Homo sapiens: one gene and its partners. The protein of the gene in region 4 purifies or fractionates together with the protein of the main gene of each other region. This does not show direct contact. Each region holds a gene or a part of one and is shown on either strand. Other genes may lie near its edges.

Region 1 (5,123 bases), on a different chromosome or scaffold from region 4:
CTGTGACAGAGCGCAGGCTCAAGGAGGAGTCCCGAGGGAGGGATCCCATTTCACAGGTGGGCAAAGGGGCTGAGACTGGAGCACAGGCCCTGGCCCCATGGCTCAGGGTGGAGGAGGGAGAGGGCAGCTAGGGCTGTCCCCCGGCCACCCCACTCAGTGGGCGCATGGCAGCCTGGCAGGTGGGAGGGCTCTGAGGCACTGGCTTTCCTTGCCCCTGGCCCTCAGTTCCCTGAAGGGGCAGGCACTGTGATGACCCAAGCAGCAGGGCTGCATGGTAATGGGATGTCATGTCCTGGAGCTCCATACTCCACCGGCAGCCTGGTTCCCACTGTCATGTGCGCTGGGACCCTGCGACTGAGCAGGGTCCCTCCAGGAGCTGCGCCCATAGCCTCGCCCTGCCAGTGGCATCGCCCCAGCATTAGGGGTTCCCAGCACCTTCTGGGGCAAAGCCTGGGTGCCTCCAGAAACCCCCTGGAAAATGCAAACTCATGATGATTCTGTGGGTTGACAAATATTCTCGTTTCCCCACAAAAAGGCTTGGGGGAGGAGCTGACAAGGGGAGGGAATCAGGTGTCCGGTCCAGGCTCAGCAGCTGGGGTGGGGGGAGTGGGTGTGTGTGTGTGTGTGTGTGTGTGTGTGTGTGTGTGTGTGTGTGGCACATGAGGTGTGAGGAGGGGGCAGTGTGGGGAACATCTGAGGTGGGGAGGCAGTGCCTGGCGGCTTATCCGAGGCAGGTGAGTCCATGTGGAGGGCGTCCTGTCTGGGGGGTCTGTGCCAGCAGCTGGATGTGGGGATGCTGGGAATACCAGGGCCAGCCCCAGCTGGAGCAGCCATAGCTGCAGTCATCTCTGAAACACCCCTGAGACTGAGGAACGAGGCAGGCTGAGAGAACCTGAACATTTAATATGGTCAGCACCTTGTAAGGTGAAGGTGTGTTTTTTACACAAATTATAAATAATGAAAAATATGCATTTAGAAAAAGAAGCAGCAGTCCCCTTGGCGGGCCGGCTCGAGGACTCTTTGGTTGAGTGGCAGGTGAGGCCCTGGGTCCAGGGTCTGTCAGAGCCCCCCTAGGTCATCTGCCAGGAAGGCCAGCAGGTAGCGGCTGACATGTCTGTCGATGATGACAGGCGAGAAACCGAGGACGCGCCGGGTCCCTGGCAGGCCCTTGGGGTCTAGAAGACAAAAGGGGAGGCAAAAGCTCAAGAACCAGTCCCAGAGGTGAATTCTGTGTTTCCATCCCTCCTGCGGGGGTGGGTGGGAACAGGCACTGGGACAGGGTGCTCCCTCCCGGTCATGGTCTCGGCTTGAGTTGAAAAGACAAGAATTAGGGCAGATTCCAGAGCCCCCAGCTCCCACCCGAGTGACCCACGGGCCTTTGAGTCCTGCCATGTGTGCCTGTGTCCCCTCACCCAGTAAGCCTCCCAGCACGACAAACTCAGGCATCACAGAAAAGGGAGACGGGGCAGGCCAGGCTGGGTGCCAGTAGAGGGGCCCTGGAAGGTTCCTGTGCATCAGGCCTGTGGCTGCTGGAGAGACCCAAGGCCCTGGGGCACGTGACCTGCTCAAGGGCCCCACATGGTTCAAGGTCACAGATGTGGCAGGGCTTTGTAACACCCAGAGTCCTGGCTGCACCCCTCCTCCCGCTAGAGGTCATCATTCTCTGGTTCCCAAGGGTGGCAGGGGCCAGTGGACGCTGGGAGCCTCCTCACATCCCCTTTCTCAGGAGCCCTGCGAGGTGACACCATCCCACTGCACAAGTGTGGACACCGAGGTACGAAGAGGCCAAGGGGTCCCAAATTGGGCAGGGTCTGGGGCCCTGGCTTGGTGGCAGAGGGGAGGCAGGCCCAGCCCCATGAGGATCCGCTTGCACCCACCTGGCGGATAGCAGTACAGGAGCAGGGCCAGTCCCACAGCAAGGCCCAGGCCAGCCAGGAAGCTCATGGGTCCTGGGGAGAAACCAGCGTGAACAGGGCTCCCCTGGGCCTCAGAGGGGTGGGGTCCTGAGGCCTGGGGGCTGCGCAGGGGAGTGGGGGTGCCAGGCTGAGGTGCTGCCTGAAGAGCCCCCAAACGAGCACCTTAGGGGGGGGGTCTGTCACCAACAGAAGGCCAGGAATGGAGCCAGACTTGGGGTGGAGAAGCCCCTGAGGCGGAGATGGAGCCCTGGGGAGGGTAAAGAGAGAGGGAGAGAGAGGGAGAGAGAGGGAGGGGCAGCAGGGAGGTGTTACCCCTGTTACTCAGCTCGCCGCTCTGGCTGCCCGAGTCTAGCTCTGTGCAATCTGAGTTCTCTGGAAACAAAACCACAGAGCATAGTTAGTCAACGGGCAGGGCCGGAGGGCAAGGTAGTCACCCCGCAGGAAGCCCAAGGTTGCTGCTGCCTCCTGGGGCCGCCAGGCCGAACCAGGCTGTGGCACCTGAGGCTAGCCCTCCTCAGGGAACTATGCACAGTCTGGGTCTTCTCCTCTGCTCCAACTCCTGGACGGGCCTAAAGGCACCCGGGAGCCACAGAAGGTGCTCTACCTCCAGTGGGGCCAAGGCTTGGCCCTGCCTGGTTTTGAAAGCCCCCTGTGGCATACTCGTGGCTGGGGAGGGAGAGCCAGTCCCACCTGCAGGGCTGGGCCTCCCCTCGAGCTCTCCCCGCCCACCGTCTGCACTGTGTTCTGTGAGGCGTGGGGAGGCCTCCAGGGGGTCAGAGACCACAGCCCAGTAGCCTGGGACAAGCCGCCCAGTCCCTCTGGTCTCTGTCCTGTTGTCTAAGGGCCAAGGGGCAGTAGCCCCTCCTCCAGGGGCCCTGAGCACAGAGGCGTCAGATCAGAGTTGCCATCTTCAACTTGATATGCCCCCCACATCCCAGCAGCTCTGTGGGCCCAGGCTACTGGCATCCACATGACTCCCAGGGCCTGAGTCCACACTGCCTGAGGACAGGAGCCTCAAAACTGAAATGCACGTGCTTCGGACCAGCCATCCGTGCCTGACAATGTCCTATGGAAACACCCACACGTGTGCAGATCGCTGCAATGAAAGGGTCCGTCATGGGGTTGGGTAATTCCAGCTGGGACCGCCTAGGAGCGCCATGCAGCTGTGGGAACAAGGTTGCTGTCCACACAGACATGAAGGGATCCCCGTGGAATGAGGTTAGAAAAGGAAGGGCAAGAGTGGACGTATAAGATGCCCCATGCTGTGTGAAAACTGCCATGAGAGAGAGACGGAGGAAGGGGGAGAAAGTGGGAGACAGAGACCAACATCTGCACTGCCTGTGCCTGCCACACTCTCCCCTCGGGGCCAGAGGGTGGCCTCTGGGGAGGGGCTGAGGCGAGAGGGGATGCCAGGCCTGGGCTGCAGCAGACTTGGGTGGTCATGGAGGACATCCATGCCATCAACGGCAGGCTGGGGTGCCCTCCCCGGGCCAGCACCAAGCATGCATGGTTGGTGATGTGGAACTTACGCAGAGCGTGGCGGCTGGGCAGGCGGCTGTGCAGGGGCTGGGCATGGATATACAGGGCTCGGTAGAACTCCTGGCAGTCCCGCTCACCGCTCCGCTGCAGGTGGCTCAGGAGGTCACAGAGCCGCACACGCAAGGATGCCTTGGGGTTCCGGAACTGAGGGTACAAGGGGGTGCCAGGGAAGATCAGGCCAGGGGGGCTGGCTGTGGGTCAGGGCAGGGCACCAAGGTCAGGCCCCCAGCCTCAGCTTCCCTGTTGGGTGTCAGGACACCTGCTGGATGGCAGCTCCTGTGACAACCTGCCCCTTACCCACACCACATAGTGCCTGGCATTGCCTCTGTCACAGGCATCACTGCTACTCCTCATACTCCCTGTGGGGTGGGAGGTTGGGAAACAGGCTGGGAGTGGTCACAAAGAAAGCATGGGGCTGGCAAGGTGCGGTGGCTCATGCCTGTAATCCCAGCACTTTGGGAGGCTGAGGCAGGCAGATCACGAGGTCAGGAGATCGAGACCATCCTGGCTAATACGGTGAAACCCCCGACTCTATTAAAAATACAAAAAACTTAGCCGGGTGTGGTGGTGGGCACCTGTAGTCCCAGCTACTCGGGAGGCTGAGGCAGGAGAATGGTGTGAACCCGGGAGGCGGAGCTTGCAGTGAGCTAAGATCGTGCCACTGCACTCCAGCCTGGGCGACAGAGCAAGACTCCATCTCGAAAAAAAGAAAGCACAGGGCTGGTGACATCATTCCAAGTGTTGGGACATAGTGTGGCTTCCTGTGTGACCTTAGCCAGCTACTCCACCCCTCAGAGACTTGGTTTCTTCATTTGTAAAAAAGGGATAATGAACCCTCATGGTAGGCTGTGACAGGGAATTAATGAAGTGATGGTATAAGTGCTAACTTCTGTTATTTTTCAGTCTACAGAATGTGATTCAAGTTTTAAAAAAGTAAGTTGAAGCCAGGCACAATGGCTCATGCCTATAATCCCAGCACTTTGGGAGGCTGAGGCAGGCGGATCAGGAGTTCCAGGTCAGGAGTTTGACACCAGCCTGGCCAACACGGTGAAACCCCATCTCTACTAAAAGTACAAAAAATTGACTGGGCATGATGGTGCATGTTTAATCCCAGCTTCTTGGGAGGCTGAGGCCAGAGGATTGCTTGAAACTGGGAGGCAGAGGTTGCACTGAGCCGAGATCATGCCACTGCACTCCAGCCTGGGCGACAGAGACTCCATCTCAAAGAAAAAAAAAAAAAGACAGAAGTATTGGCTCTTTTGATGTGTATGACAGAGAAATGTGTGGTTCTCAAGGTCAGTGGACAGGCCACTGGGCCTTGACCTCCAGGACCTGGAGTCTGTGGCCTGGTGCTGCCACCTGGTGGCAGCATATCATTCTACATGGCCACAGGGAACTGGAGTTAAACCATGGCAGTGTGAAAATGGCAGGCAGATGGGTGGCAGGAGCTGTGGTGTCTGTGAGGAAGGAATATGTGCTTTTTCTTGTATAAACGTCTTAAACTTTCTAAACTTTTTAAAAGTGAACATGCATTAGACTTCAATTGCAATAATAAGAGATTTGGATTTGAGCTCCTAACTTTTAAAATTACTGTACCACCTTCAAAACGGAAGAAGCACCTGAGCCAGTAGCAGGGCCCGTGTTGACTCCTGTTCTGTTGTGGGCCAA
Region 2 (5,123 bases), on a different chromosome or scaffold from region 4:
CTGCAGAATATTAAATCTTAAGAAGAAATACGGCTTATCATTAGTCCTTAAAACTATACAAGGCGTGGCTTCTTAACTTCTCCAGAAGGAAAATAAAAGCTCATGATGCTATCATCTGACAAAGGTGTTAACAGAAATCCAATAAGTACCTGCCTCTAGCAATTTGCTTTTCAAGCTTTATACAGTATTTAATCATATCCCATATTACCTTGTCTAATCAAATCTCTGAAGTCCTCTTTTTCTTTATACGTTTTAGGTATTCGTCCATTTGTCTAAATTGGTTAAAAATTTTAAAAATCTAGTTATTAAAATTCAAAATACAGAAATTGAAAGTCTAAAGTGTCCCCCATTCTCTACATAAGATTTCATCAACAAATATATTTCTCTGTGAAATCAGAGGCTCACTTGATAGAAAACAGACACTGTGACCATTTATCTACATTCATTCCCCCTGCCAGTTTCATAATGACATTTATTGAATTTCATTTTAATTAAAATTATCAGGATCAAAAGAGGAACTGCTAGATTTAAATTTAAAAGCATCCATTTGCCCTACCATACAACTCCATAAGGAAAAAAAATTAATCTCCCATTCCCCATCAAGGAAATCCTTTGTAAGAAACTGAAAATACAGTTGCATATGAAATTTTTTTTAAAAAAGGACATACTTCACTATACCACTGTGCTAAATATTTAGCTATGATCACAATCCATGGAGTATGACTGTGGTCCTAAAAATGAGAGACAAATAAAAGAAAATATCAGTATTATGAATTCTTCACTGTACCATCTCGTTTTCAACAAATTCAACAATATTTATGATCTCCTAATATATGCAGAGTAGTGAATAGACGAAAATGAACTGAGTTAATAAAAACTGCTTTACAAATTTTTCTAGAGGCAGATACCTAGTATGTCACATATATACTATGATTGTCCCCATTATACCAGCAAAACAGTCTCAGAGACTGCCACCCAAAAACACAGCTCAAATCTCAATTTCAGACACCAATCCTAAGTAAGAAAGGAGGATCTTTTCTGTTTTCTGATGAACCAAATAAGCAACTGCATGTTAATTAATATGGAAGTGGGAAAAAATACATATACGCCTTATAGTGTTATGTCATTATTTCTATTTGTTTAGAAAAAGTCCATAAAGAGAACTTCTTGGAATTTTTTTATTTCTGTTTTTTGTTTTAAAATTTTTTACTTTCAATTTTTGTGGGTACTTAGGTGTATATATTTATGGGGTACATGCTTTGATACAGGCATGCAATGTGAAATAAGCACATCATGGAGAATGGGGTATCTGTATAGCATTTATCCCCTCAAGCGTTTATCCTTTATGTTACAAATAATCCAATTAAACTCTTTTAATTATTTTAAAATGTATAACTGAGTTGTTATTACTAACTATAGTCACCTTGTTGTGCTTTCAAGGAGTAAATCTTATTTATTCTTTCTAATTTTTTTTTGGTACCCATTAACCATCCCCATCTCCCCACCTGGAATAGGTTAATGTCCAATTTCTTGACCTGGGTAGTGATTACACAGATGTTCAGTATATGTACTTTTCTTCAGTAAAAAAGTTTTTTAATTTTGGAGAAAAATTAATATGTTGAAAACAAGGTAAAATACTGTTATTGGGTAATCGGGATGACAGGAATATGGAAGTTTATAGGATTTTCTCACTTTAGTGTAATTCAAAAACCTTAGGTTAAAAAAATGTTTTAAGTCTATCTGTAAATGTAAGGTCACACACACTACCAACCTTTTTTTCCATATGATCCAAATCATAGGACTGAAAATGTTCTCTCAGTTCAGGAAATGGCTTATCTAGTCGTAGATCCTCTAATGCATTATCTGGATGAGATTCTATTACTGTGAAACAAAGAATTCAAAAGGATAAATTTAACACTTAAAAAAAAAAAAGAGAGAGATGGGGTCTTGCTGTATTACCCAGGCTGAAGTACAGTGGCACAATCACAGCTCACTGCTGAAACTCCTGGGCTGAAGGGATCCTCCCACCTCAGCCTCCTGAGAAGGTGGGACTACAGTCTCGTGTCACTGTGCCCAGCTAATTTTTTTGTAGGGATAGGGTCTCACTATGTCACCCAGGCTAGTCTCAAACTCCTGGATTCAAGGGCTCCTCCTGCCTCGGCCTCCCAAAGTCCTTGCATTACAGGTGTGAGCCACCGTGCCCAGCTCAAAAGATAAACTTAATTCTTTGGCAATACTGATGACAATACATTGAATTATAGAAACTTAGGAAATCTTTAATTTTTAAATGGACACAGGGCCCACAGGTTTTTTCACTGTTTTATTAAGGTACGATTTACATATAGTAAAATGCAGAAATCTTAAGTCAACTATAAAGTTTTAGTAAAAGTAAAACCAAGATTCCTTTAGAACACAATTTGTTCTAACTGGAAAAGCTCAACATTGACAAACCCTAGGTACAGATAGCAACTAACAACCTATCCTTCCTCCTCTTGTGGTCTTCAATAGACAGCATCACCATCTACCTAGACTTCTTCTCCAGAAACCTGATGGGCATCCTTCACTTCTTGCTTCCTTGGCCCCAACATCAGTAACTCCCCACTTCCTAATCTCACTCTGTACACTGCTCTCCACATGAGAGAGGACAGGAGAGTGTATAATTTCAGTGAGTGCTTAGAGGTAGGCCCAGTTCTGTCACTTGCTAACTATGTGACCTTAGGCAAATAATTTAATCTCTCATTGCCTCAGCATCATCTATAAAAAGCAGATATTAAAGTATCTACAGATTGTATATCTCTCTTATCCAAAATGCTTGGGACCATAAGTGTTTTGGATTTTGTTGAGTTTTTGGTATATTTGCAAATACATATTAGATGAGCTCTCTAACCCAAAAATCTGAAGTAAGAAATGTTCCAATGAGTGTTTCCTTTGAATATTATGTCAGTTCTCAAAAAGTTTTGCATTTTGGAGCATTTCTGATTTTGGATTTTTGGATTAAGGATACTCAATCTGTACCTTATAAAGGTTTTGGAAAGAGTAAATGAAATAATTCTTATAAAGGCAGGCACACAACTAGTAATGCTGAACCTTCATTATTATCTACCCTCTCTTCTTCTCTTCCCTAAATTAGGAAAAAGAACACACTCTCTCTTACTTAGGCCACTGGAAATTTCTAACAGCAATCACTGCCTCCAATCTTTGCCCCTTTAAATCCATTTACTTTCCACTCAACTTCAAAGTGACCCATTTAAAATAAAATGTTTACATGGTCACTCTCCCACTTTCAACTCTTTTGTTCCCTCCCATCAGTTGACACCACTTTCAACTCTTAAATGGCTCACCACCAGCAGCCAGAGCTTATCCTGACAAGCACTCCCTAACTGCCCACACAGATATTACTCCTCAGTGATGCTACCAATGCCAATGGCTATCACCACATTAGCAGAGTGCTTGGCTCATAGTAAAAATGTTTTCTTGAGTCAATAAAGAGCACTGTTTTGAATACTGGATGAAAATTTTATGATCATCTAAGATTAAAATTTTATAAGTAAAGGGCTTATATAAACCCTCAGCTGATGGAGGTCTGCCTATAAACGACTTTGGTCTCTTACAACAGTTTCCTTGGGAACAGTAGTTATGTAAATGTCTTTGTTGTGTGAAATTGCACCTGAATTGAGAGAACCTAAAGCCTGCATGAGAATGAAATAAAAGATTGGACGGACCTGGTGCAGTGGCTCACACCTGTAATCCCAGCACCTTGGGAGGCCAAGGCGGGTGGATCACCTGAGGTCAGGAGTTCGAGACCAGCCTGGCCAACATGGTGAAATCCTGTCTCTACTAAAAATGCAAAAAATTAGCTGGGCGGCCGGGTGCGGTGGCTCACGCCTGTAATCCCAGCACTTTGGGAGGCCAAGGCGGGCAGATCACGAGGTCAGGAGATTGAGACCATCCTGGCTAACATGGTGAAACCCCATCTCTACTAAAAATACAAAAAATTAGCCGGGCACGGTGGCGGGCGCCTGTAGTCCCAGCTACTCGGGAGGCTGAGGCAGGAGAATGGCGTGAACCCGGGAGGTGGAGGTAGCAGTGAGCCAAGATCGCGCCACTGCAGTCCAGCCTGAGCAAAAGAGAGAGACTCCGTCTCAAAAAAAAAAAAAAAAAAATTAGCTGGGCATGGTGGCGGGTGCCTGTAATCCCAGATACTTGGGAGGCTGAGGCAGGAGAATCAGTTGAACCCGGGAGGTGGAGGTTGCAGTGAGCCAAGATTGTGCCATTGTACTCCAGCCTGGGCAACAAGAGCGAAACTCTGTCTTAAAAAACAAAAAAAAGACTGGAGTGGGGAAAGGTGGTGTAACTTCATGGGTCAGAGTGATCCACATTCCTTAGCTCTCCACAGCCATACATGCCCAATGTGGGTTAGGGGGCAAAAGAAGCTGGGTACTTGCATAGTTGCTGGATCTCCTAATAAGATGAAGAAGCTGTGCCTGTGGTATATCATGCTTTGTATCCTTCTATAATGCTACATAAAGAGTAGATTGCAGCCTATTGAATCTGATTGCCACTTTGAATCTGCAACTAGAGATGTGCTGCTACAAATTTACTTTGTAATTTAAAACTGACTTTCTAAATTGTCAAGTTTCTAAAATTATAGCTAAAGCAACCAATAGTAAGCCCATATGCTCAACAATTTTACCTGGATGTTCTTTTATAATGATCCTCATATAACCAACTAGTCCATATGTCCTACAGATCAAAAGAGGAATCTGGGAATTCCAGAGGACATCTGCTAAGCGTAGTGAAGTGCTGTTTAAAAAAAAAAAGCAAAATATGAACATAAGCAAATGGAAATATGCCAAACATGAAAACATGCAAAACATGAAAATGTCTTACAGCAACTTTCTTACTAAATAATAGATGCAAAGGTACATAACTGCATTTACATAAGCAGGTCAAGAACACACTGAAAAGCAAGCATTTCCACAGGCTGCAGTCTCAAAGAAAGTACATCTTTGGACAAGAGGGATGTGAAACTTTAGTCTGTCATATTAAGGAGAAACGTTAAAGAAAGATAATTCTAAACATTTCCATGATAGAGAAAAAATATAAAACCCACAAATACACCC
Region 3 (5,123 bases), on a different chromosome or scaffold from region 4:
GTCACTGGAGAGAGGTCAGTCACTTCATCAGGTGCTTAGCTCTCAGTACTTAAATAAAACAGCAAAGAAGTTTGTACTTTGTTACAATTCAGAATGACCTTCCCCTCCAAATTCCTACTGAACTAGTCAAACCTCCAGTACTGTAAACTACTTACATTTCGAAAAGCTCTACTGAATGTTGAAATCCAAGTAGAAAAAGTTATAAAAAGTTACTCCCTGTTTTATTGCTGTTCACTGGATTTGGCTGACATTTGCTTTTTACTTTCATCAAATCTTACCGAATGATGAAGACACATCAAGTTACAAAGGTACCACTTTCTCTCTAATATCTTTTCTTTTTAAACAATTTGTGTCAATGTCAACAACATGATAAAGATGAAGGGTGTTCAACTGATTATTTGAACCCATAAAAACTCCACCAGGGAATCTTATTTTGTGGGCACAATGCACAGAGCCTGGAACATGGTGGGTGCTCAATGTTGGAGGAATCAAATTCCAACTTTAAAATGAGTACAAGGACCTACTTTAGATCAAATATTAAATCTGGCTAATAATTTCGGGCCACACTCCGCTTCTGTGTCTCAAAGCAGGTGGGGCAGAAAAAAGTAGCCGAGTCTCAAATTTGCTGCTATTCTCTTTATAAGCAGTTTACAACTACTTGGCATCTCTAGCTCAGAAGCACAAAATGTATATACAAAGAAATGATTAGAATTTATCTTAACTGAAAGCACTAGTTTAAACAGCCTAGAGTCTTGTAGAAATTGTTATTCCAAAACATGCAGAGGCAGCAAGAGTTGCCCAAAACCACATTTTATTCTATAACCTTTATATTGCTTTTCTGTTAAAGATTGAAGCAATGTGAAGTGGATGGAAATATTTTGTTAAAAGAACAAAATGAATTAATCACAGCATAGATGACTAATAAAAACCTTGGGTTTATGCCATACACTTCAAACACAAGGCAAAGTCCAGTAGTGGCTCATGTTCTGGGTTTTTAGAAAGCAAATGAAAATATTTGGAAAGATCAATATATTTCAACAGAAGAGCCATAAATGCCCTGAAAGCAGAAAGTTGACACAATTTTAAATAGAATTCATATATATATATTTTAAAATCAAACACAATTAAATATAATATGGTTTAAGTACATGAATACTTCAGCTTTAAAAGAATAACAGAGGTGGTACATAGTACCAAAAACTTACACAAAGCCTTTTTGCTTCTTCTGTCGATGAAACAGTGTGCCTCTATACAATCAAATATTGCAATGGAATAAATTCTCTGTTCATTCAAGACTTTCTCAAGGACAAAAGTGATTAATAATTATATATTTATACATATATATATATATTTTTTTTTTTGCAAAGTCTGAGCAAAAGCAGTAACATCTAAGAGAACTTTCTTTCCTCTCAATCATGTGCATTGAGGAAGCGCTGGCGCCACGTGGTCAATGGAGTGTGCTCACCAACTGGGCAGTCCTGCTGATGGCTGTGTGATCCCGATGCAGAAGCCAACTGAGCAGAAGTGCAGTGAGTGAGTCTCTTACTATCCTAAAGAAAGGAGAAGAAAGACGACCAACTGCACACTTTCCAGCTCACAGCAAAGAATGGGGGAGGCAGTCAAAGTCAAATGTTTCTCTCTCCCCAGTCATCCTGCTCACCTTATTTAAAAAAAAAAAAAGTATAATTTGGGAAGAACTGCTTTGTTCAAGGTGCCACAGGGGCAAAAGTGGAGTCATCGCTATTTCTTTCTTTCTTTCCACATGTATTCTGAAGGGAAAGTTAAGTAACTGGAGTGCAGAATTCCAAAGGGGCAAATCCTAATGCTCAAAGTAAACCAGATTCACACCCTTCTGTTAGCAGGGGAGAGAATGGTTTTAAGTATAGTGCATCTCAGGAGGAGGAATTAAAATGTGAAAACTATATACTGCCATCAGAGGAAGGAGGAAGTCACTGAAACTTGACCCATGACTTGTCAGTTTCCTTCCAAATTAATGCCGCTGTCAAGAAGACTGCATAATTAACTCTCACCCTGTTCCGCTGAAGCTGCTAGCACCACGCTGCCACTCAAAGCTGCCTGGCTCTCGGTGGGGCTGACTCACCTGCTTTGGAAGGACAAAGCAAACCACCTCTGGCACCTGCTTTACAATGCTGATTAGGGATGAGTTACCACTACGAGTGTGCATCAAGTATCAGTTCTATGCTTATCTGCTTCCCAGAGGATGTGGTCCCTGTCTATTCCAGTAGGCTAAAACACTCTCATAAATGGGTTATTGCCATTGGAAAACTAATAATTTTCTAGTAATGTAAACAATACCATTTTGTATCTTTAAGACTCTCACTGTGTGAACATCATGTGCATCAATTATGCCTACAGGTAACTGCATTATGGTGGAAGTCTAGGATTGTCTCCCATTCTCTCCTGGAAACAACAGTGACAGATCAGAAATATAGTGCTGTTTTCATTGGCTGTGTTGAAGAATCCAACCAAGGGAAAAAAGTTCTCTTATTTTTCACAAGCAGATTTCCTTTATCTCAAGTTTTGAGTCATAACTGAAAAAAGAAAAGAAAAGAAAATGGTAAGGTGCATTTCTCTAACAAGTGACCTATTATTACAAATTAAGGATGGACACCAACACTTAGTGTTTACTATATACCAGAGTTTAAGACAGCCAGAAGCTGACTACAATTTTGTGAGGTAAAATATTGTAATTTTCCTTGTTAAAATATGAGTGAACAGAAGCTTAAAGAGGTTACGTAACTTACCCAAGGGGCATATAACAAGGACTGGCATCCAGACTTGCTTTCCCATGTTGGCAATAGATATTAGAATGAAAAATATTGCCAATTTTCAATAGAGTAATTCTACTTCTAGGAATTAACCCTAGAGCATATTCAAGAGGGATGGTAAAGACACACATGCAGACATTCACTGACTCCCTCCTGTAGTCACAGCACTGCGGACAAATATCACGGAAGACAAGGTCCCCGGTATTGTGGCATGGGACATGTGCACATGAAGCAATTCAGTAATGGTGTGAGGTAGTTTATGCTGAATGTCCAAGTACATCCTATAGGCAAATGTCGAGTTGGAGGTTGAAGCAGAGAGGTATCAACACAGGATAAAGAGAATGAGTATTCCTTCGCAGGCCTAGGACTTCATGCATTCATAAAATCATGGAATGAGGATTAGAAGGGGTTTTTCTTTTGGGGTTTTGGTGTCGAATTTCTCTGATCTACTAATGAGGACATGAGGAACTAAAGTAGTCACCTGCAAAAGGTCACACTTACTGCCTAAAGTAAAGAAAAACTCAGCTAGTTCTTCGAGTCTACTGTTTTTTTTTGTTTTTTTTTTGAGACGGAGTTTCACTCTTGTGGCCCAAGCTGGAGTGCACTGGTGCAATCTCAGCTCACCGCAACCTCTGCCTCCCGGGTTCAAGCAATTCTCCTGCCTCAGCCTCCCAAGTAGCTGGGATTACAGGCAATGCGCCACCACGCCCAGCTAATTTTGTATTTTTAGTAGAGATGAGGTTTCTCCATGTTGGTCAGGCTGGCCTTGAACTACCGATCTCAGGTGATCTGCCTGCCTCAGCCCCCACAAAGTGCTGGGATTATAGACGTGAGCTACCACGCCCGGCCCCCATTTCTGGTATTTTTTATTTTAAGAAATTCCATTTGGTTCTTTTAAAACTATTTTGCATTTTTCTCATTATACTCTTGTTTTCTTTAACTTTTTTTTTTTTTTTTTTGAGACAGAGTCTCACTCTGTTGTCCAGGCTGGAGTACAAGTGGCACAATCTCGGCTTACTGCAACCTCAACCTCCACCTCCCGGGTTCAAGTGATTCTTGTGCCTCAGCCTCCCATATAGCTGGGACTATAGGCACCTGCCACCATGCCCAGCTAATTTTTTTGTATTTTTAGTAGAGAAGGGGTTTCACCATATTGGCCAAGCTGGTCTTGAACTCCTACCCACCTTGGCCTCCCAAAGTGCTGGGATTACAGGCATGAGCCACTGCACCTGGCCACTTGAACATATTTTTAATATTTAAAATAGCCACTTGATGGTCTTTGTCTGCTAAATTCATCATCTTTCTCACATCTGGGTCTGTTTCTATAGATTGAGTTTTCTCCTGGTTATAGGTCAACTTCATGTCATGCTTGGTAATTTGTGATTGACGTCAGACATTCTTTTTTTTTTTTGAGCCTGAGTTTTGCTCTTTTTGCCCAGACCAGAGTGCAGTGGTGCGATCTCGGCTCACTGCAACCTTCACCTCCTGGGTTCAGGCAATTCTCCTGCCTCAGCCTCCCAAGTAGCCGGGATCACAGGTGCCGGCCACCATGCCTGGCTAAGTTTTTGTATTTTTAATAGAGACGGGGTTGCACCATGTTAGCCAGGCTGGTCTTGAACTCCTGACCTCAGGTCATCTACCTGCCTCGGCCTCCCAAAGTGCTGGGATTACAGGCATGAGCCACTGCGCCCAGCCTGGACGTCAGACATTCTAACTTTACACTGTGAAGTGCTGAATTTTGTTGTGTTACTGTAAAGAGGGTTAGGCCTTTGTTTTGGCATGCAGTTGTTAGGTAATTTGACCCTTTAAAAATTTGCTTTGAAACTTGGTTCAGGTGCTTGTACTCTAGGACTAATTTATCTTCAGTAGTAAGGCATAACCTCTGTGAAGACACTACCCAATGCCTTGTGTATTACTAAGTCTCTCTACTCTGGCCAGATCCTTCTGGCCATGAACTTTTCTTAGCCCTATGTTCCAGCAATCATTCAGCCTACTAATTTCTGGGGGGTTCTCTACCTGGACACATGCGTTTTCACCCCACACATATACAGATCACTCCTAGGCCAAGGATCCATGGGAATCTCTCTAAATATCTCTACGGCTTTCTTTCTGGGCAGCTTCCTCTTTTCTGCTACCTTATCCTACAACTTCTACTCAAATTGAGCTCTCTGAACTTTGATTTTTTTTTTGAAATGGGGTTTCGCTCGTCGCCCAGGCTGGAGTGCAGTGGTGTGATCTCGGCTCACTGCAACCTCCGCCTCCCTGGTTCAAGCGATTCTCCTGCCTCAGCCTCCCAAATAGTTGGGATTACAGGTGCCTGCCACCACACCCGGC
Region 4 (5,123 bases):
TACTACAAAAATAACTCTACTATGATTAGTCTTTTAATGGAAAAAAAAAAAGTTCTAGTAAGTCTAGAAACCTTGAAATTATCCTTAAATATTTTCTTTCTTTCATCTTCTATATCCAAATTCATTCTCTCGTTCTTTTTTTCTTTCTTTTTTTTTTTTTAGAGATAGGGCTCACTGTGTTGCCCGTGAGTGCAGTGGTACAGTCATAGCTCACTACAGCCTGCAACTTCTGGGTCCAAGTGTTCTTCCCACTTCAGTCTCCCAAGTAGCTAGGACTAAAAGCACACTATCACCATGCCTGGCTAATTAAAAAAAAAAAATTTCTTATAGAGACAGAGGTCTCACTATGTTACCAAGGCTGGTCTTGAACTCAGATTATCTTAGCCTCAAATTATCCTCTCACTCAGCCTTCCAAAGTGCTGAGATTACAGGTGTGAGCCACCATGCCCGGCATCCTATTGCTTTCGAAAGTTTTTTCTACAGGGCTTGATGCCGTGGCTCATGCCTGTGATGCTAGCACTTTGGGAGGCCGAGGGGGGCAGATTGTTTGGGCCAGGAGTTTGAGACCTGCCTGGCCAACATGGCGAAACCCTTTTCCTACAAAAAATACAAAAAAATTGCCAGGCATAGTGCCTGTATTCCCAGCTACTGGGGAGGCTGAGGTGGGAGAATCACCTGAGCCAGAGGAGGTTGAGGATGCAGTGAGCTGTGATCATGTCACTACATACCAGCCTGGGTGACAGAGTGAGACGCCCATTTCAAAAAAATAAATAAAATTATCTCCACAGAATCTTCTATTGAACTTACCTTTTATCGTCCTTTTCAATTTTTTTTTAAATTTAGCTACTATCATAGGAACCTTGTTATTCCCAATTAATTTATAAGTTTTGCCTTGCCAATGAGATTTTAAATTCTTTTTCTAAGGACATAATTGGGATGCAGTAAGAATTTTTAGTTGAACCATACGACTATGTGCTCATGACTGCATTTGTGAATGGGTGAACAGCTGAGTGTTTACTATGTGCATTTCTTTTTTTTTTTTTTTGAGACAGGGTCTTACTCTGTCACCCAGGCTGGAGAGCAGTTGGCATAATCATGGCTTACTGTAACCTCAAACTCTTATGTTCAAATGCTCCTCCTGCTTCAGCCTCCCAAGTAGTTGGAACTACAGGCACATGCCTGTATATACTATATCCAGCTAATTTTTTTATATTTTTTGTAGAGATGGGGAACTGCCGTGTTGTCCAGGCTGGTCTTGAACTCCTGGCTTCAAGTGGTCCTTCTGCTTTGGCCTCCTAAAGTGCTGGGATTGTAGGCGTGAGCCACCACACCCAGCCACTATGTACATTTCTGCTGTATATCTGAGGATGAGGTGATACATATGTACATAGTCACACAAATATATATGTAGTATATATGTAATATATTTGTGTGAATATGTATGCACATATGTGTATGTGTGTATATATGTGTATATATGTATATATATGCGTATGTAGTGAATGTCTGCTATTGTACTGAATACAGACAAATGAACAGCTTCAAACAGTTAAATGCCTTCCTAATGTGGAATTAGTATGTCCTGATTAGTCCCTTGAAATTATTATTAGGTTTTTTGTCCCTTTAAATTAAATAAATATTTTTGACCTCTGCTTTTTTGTTCTTTCTAAATATTCAGAGGACCTCTGTATTATTTTCTCCTTTGAGGTTCAGAATGTTGAAAATAGACCATCTAGTCTTCTTACTTCAATTTTCCCCTTCCTGTTCTGTATATCTTTCCTGCTGGGAGCATCACCATCATGCCTTACCCCCAGACCTTTACATTTAGAGGAGCTTGGTGGTTTCCCTGTTCTCTCAGATCTATTTTACTACTATACTGCACTACATTTTGTTTTTATCATTTTCCCTAATAAGCAATGTTATAGTAAAAATAATTTAAGTTCACTCTGGAGATTCACATGAGTACAAATGTGTTCCTTTAAAAAGGGTTTATGTATTTCTCAAGTTTGAGAAACTTTATAGTACTACATTTCATCAATTGTAAGGCATTTTTTTTTCCACATAACATTTCAGAATATAGGATACATCTTAAAGATGATGGTGTTATAGTTTTAAGTGGTGGTGTTTTTTCTTTCTTAGCAGTCTGTAAAATAATACTGATAGTGTCTTTAATTCAGTGCAATAATGACCAATCATATGACATAGCTGCGTAAGAACAGGAACTTTGTCTATAGCCAAATCATGAAATCTGTGTATCATTTTTACCCAAAACAATAATAAGGTATCTAGTTATCCATAGCAGTTTTCTGTAATCTATCATACATATTAAAAATATACAATTTCTCTCCTTGGTTACCTTAAGTTGAAAACAGTCCACAGTGATAATAAACATACTACAAAGAATAAACTGCTGAAGAAATGCCAAAACAAAATAAAGAAGGTTTTGCGTTTATAGTGTATGCTTTCTATGGGGGAATTGAATAAATGTTGTAACACAAAGTTCATGAATCTTCTTGCCTATCTTTAACTTTACATTATCTAATGGTGGTCTAATAGTTTGACCTATAATTTTTTTAAAAATGGTTTAATTTTCAGATCTTAACTGTTCAGGATCTTGTTGATTTTTCCCCTGTTTATCGATGTTTGCACATTTATTCTGTTTTGGTAAGTATGTTTTATATTTATGTATATATAGCTTTATATTATTTAAAAGGCATGTATGTATTTTAGGCCCTAAAAATTGATCATATGCTGTAAATCTTCACATAATTCTTTGTGAAATATCCACTCTGTGTAAGGCACTTACATTTTTTGTTTACTTATCATAGTGTAATTTCAAGTGATATACCATTTCATGTATATTTTAAGAACCTTGTAATAGTATACTTCCATTTCTCCCTATTGCCTTTGTGCTGTTGTTACATCACAGTTCTTATAAGTTACTTTTACATGTGTATTCCATACTACATTGCTCTTATTTTTGATTTAATGTTCCTTTTTAAAAATAACTGCTTTATTGAGATCTAGTTCACATACGAAAAAACTTACCCTTTTAGAGTATACAATTCGGTGGTTTTAGCATATTCACAAGGATGTGCAACCATTACCACTACCTAATTCCAGAAATACCCATTACCCACCCCTCCAACCACCCCCAAAACATCAAAAATGTGTATCTGGCTGTTATTAGGTGGTGTGTTCTATAGATATTTGTTAGATGTAGTTGGTTTATAGGGTTGTTCACGTCTTTTACTTCCTTGTTGGTCTTCTGCCTATTCTGTTATTGAAAGTAGAAGTATTGGAGTCTTCAACTATAACTGTTGAATTGTCCATTTTTTCTTTCAGTTTTGCCAGTTTTTTATTCATGTATTTTTAGGGCCTTGTTGGCAGGTGAATATATGTTTATAATTGTTATGTCTTCCTGATGGATTGACCTTTTTTAAAAAAATCATAAAATATCTTTCTTCATAATATTTTTTGTCTTAAGGTCTGTTTGGCTTTAATTAGTATAGCCACTCCAGCTTTCTTCTGAGCACTATTGGCATAGCATGTTTTTCCCCATCCTTTTACTTTCAGTCTCTTTGTATCTTTGAATCTAAAGTATGTCTCCAGTAGGTAACACATAGTTCAGTCTGTTTTTTTAAATCCAGTCTGCTGATCTCTGCCTTTCAATTGGAGTGTTTAGTTCATTTACATTTAATGTAATTACTGGTAAGGTAGGATTTATGTCTGCTCTGATGTTTGCCATTTGTTTTAACATGTCTTATATCTTTTTTGTTCCTCTATTCCTCCATTAGTACTGTCTTGTGCATTAAATAGATATTTTCTTATGTACCATTTCATTTCCTTTGTCATTTCCTTTTTTTTTTTTTTTTGTGCTGGAGTTTTGCTCTTGTTGCCCAGGATGGAGTGCAATGGCATGATCTCAGATCACTGCAACCTCCGCCTCCTGGGTTCAAGTGATTCTCCTGCCTCAGCCTCCCAAGTAGCTGGGTTTACAGGCACCCGCCACCATGGCCAGCTAATTTTTTGTATTTTTTTAGTAGAAATGGGGTTTCACCTTGTTGGCCAGGCTGATCTCGAACTCCTGACTTTAGGTGATCCACCCGTCTCGGCCTCCCAAAGTGCTGGGGTTACAGGTGTGAGCCACCTAGCCCAGCCTATTTTCTTAGTATTAGCCCTGAGGATTGCAATTAACATCTTACTTTAAAACAATTCAGTTAGATTAATACCCTTTTCTTTGTGCTATTGTTTTCTTTCTTTCTTTTTTTTTTTTTTTGAGATAGGGTCTTGCTCTGTCACCCAAGATGGAGTGCAGTGGCGTGATCACAGCTCACTGCAGCCTTGACCTCTTTGGGCTCAAGCGATTCTCCCACTTGAGCCTCCCAAGTACCTGGGACTACAGGCTCATGCCACCATGCTTGGCTAATTTTTGTATTTTTGGTAGAGGTAGAGTTTACAGTATAGTCTTACTGTTTTATGCTGTAAATTTAATAAACTTTCATTAGCACAATAACTTCTGGCTGGTATATATAACCAAAAATTATTTGGTAAAGCTAATTTCTTTCTTTTTTTTTGAGACAGAGTCTTGCTCTGTTGCCTAGGCTGGAATGCAGTGGTGCCATCTTGGCTCACTACAACCTGCGCCTCCTGGGTTCAAGCGATTCTACTACCTTAGCCTCCCAAGTAGCTGGGATTACAGGCGCCTGCCACCACGCCTGACTAATTTTTGTATTTTTAGTAGAGACGGGGTTTCTCCATGTTGGCTAGCCTGGTCTCGAACTCCTGACCTCAGGTGATCTGCCCACCTCAGCCTCCCAAAGTGCTGGGATTACAGGCATGAGCCACCGTGGCCGGCCACTAATTTCTTATTATTGTTACAACTCTTCTTCCTTCTACTTGTTATTCCAGTTCTGCCATTTCCCAGCATTATAGCATTGGGAAAATTACTTCCCTTATTTGAGTTCCTCATTTGCAAAATATGGTTAACAATTTCTAAGGCTATGTTGGATATTATAGTCAATATAAATAATAAAAGTGCTTGGTATAGGACCTGGTATAAAATATCAGGCAGTAAATGTTAAAGGGGTTATTATAAAAGGGTTACATTAATATGTATGCTT

The links.
Region 1: the proteins of EXOC6 (region 4) and CARD19 purify together in Homo sapiens (affinity purification with mass spectrometry; 2 studies listed by BioGRID and IntAct, with this or other methods). This does not show direct contact.
Region 2: the proteins of EXOC6 (region 4) and NAE1 fractionate together in Homo sapiens (co-fractionation; one large-scale study listed by BioGRID). This does not show direct contact.
Region 3: the proteins of EXOC6 (region 4) and AKAP10 purify together in Homo sapiens (tandem affinity purification; one large-scale study listed by IntAct). This does not show direct contact.

What each region holds. Positions count from the first base shown.
Region 1 is NC_000009.12:93,109,044-93,114,166, reverse strand, and holds the end of CARD19 (caspase recruitment domain-containing protein 19), read right to left. Parts: exon of another isoform or gene 5,075-5,123; intron 3,600-5,074; coding exon 3,446-3,599; exon of another isoform or gene 2,289-3,445; coding exon 2,229-2,288; exon of another isoform or gene 1,950-2,228; coding exon 1,878-1,949; intron 1,176-1,877; coding exon 1,060-1,175; 3' UTR 884-1,059; downstream 1-883. UniProt on the Homo sapiens protein: Plays a role in inhibiting the effects of BCL10-induced activation of NF-kappa-B. May inhibit the phosphorylation of BCL10 in a CARD-dependent manner.
Region 2 is NC_000016.10:66,816,757-66,821,879, forward strand, and holds part of NAE1 (NEDD8-activating enzyme E1 regulatory subunit), read right to left. Parts: intron 4,804-5,123; coding exon 4,694-4,803; intron 1,882-4,693; coding exon 1,772-1,881; intron 732-1,771; coding exon 669-731; intron 273-668; coding exon 209-272; intron 1-208. UniProt on the Homo sapiens protein: Regulatory subunit of the dimeric UBA3-NAE1 E1 enzyme. E1 activates NEDD8 by first adenylating its C-terminal glycine residue with ATP, thereafter linking this residue to the side chain of the catalytic cysteine, yielding a NEDD8-UBA3 thioester and free AMP.
Region 3 is NC_000017.11:19,903,681-19,908,803, forward strand, and holds the end of AKAP10 (A-kinase anchor protein 10, mitochondrial isoform 1 precursor), read right to left. Parts: intron 2,553-5,123; coding exon 2,547-2,552; 3' UTR 622-2,546; downstream 1-621. UniProt on the Homo sapiens protein: Differentially targeted protein that binds to type I and II regulatory subunits of protein kinase A and anchors them to the mitochondria or the plasma membrane.
Region 4 is NC_000010.11:92,917,387-92,922,509, forward strand, and holds part of EXOC6 (exocyst complex component 6), read left to right. Parts: intron 1-2,595; coding exon 2,596-2,664; intron 2,665-5,123. UniProt on the Homo sapiens protein: Component of the exocyst complex involved in the docking of exocytic vesicles with fusion sites on the plasma membrane.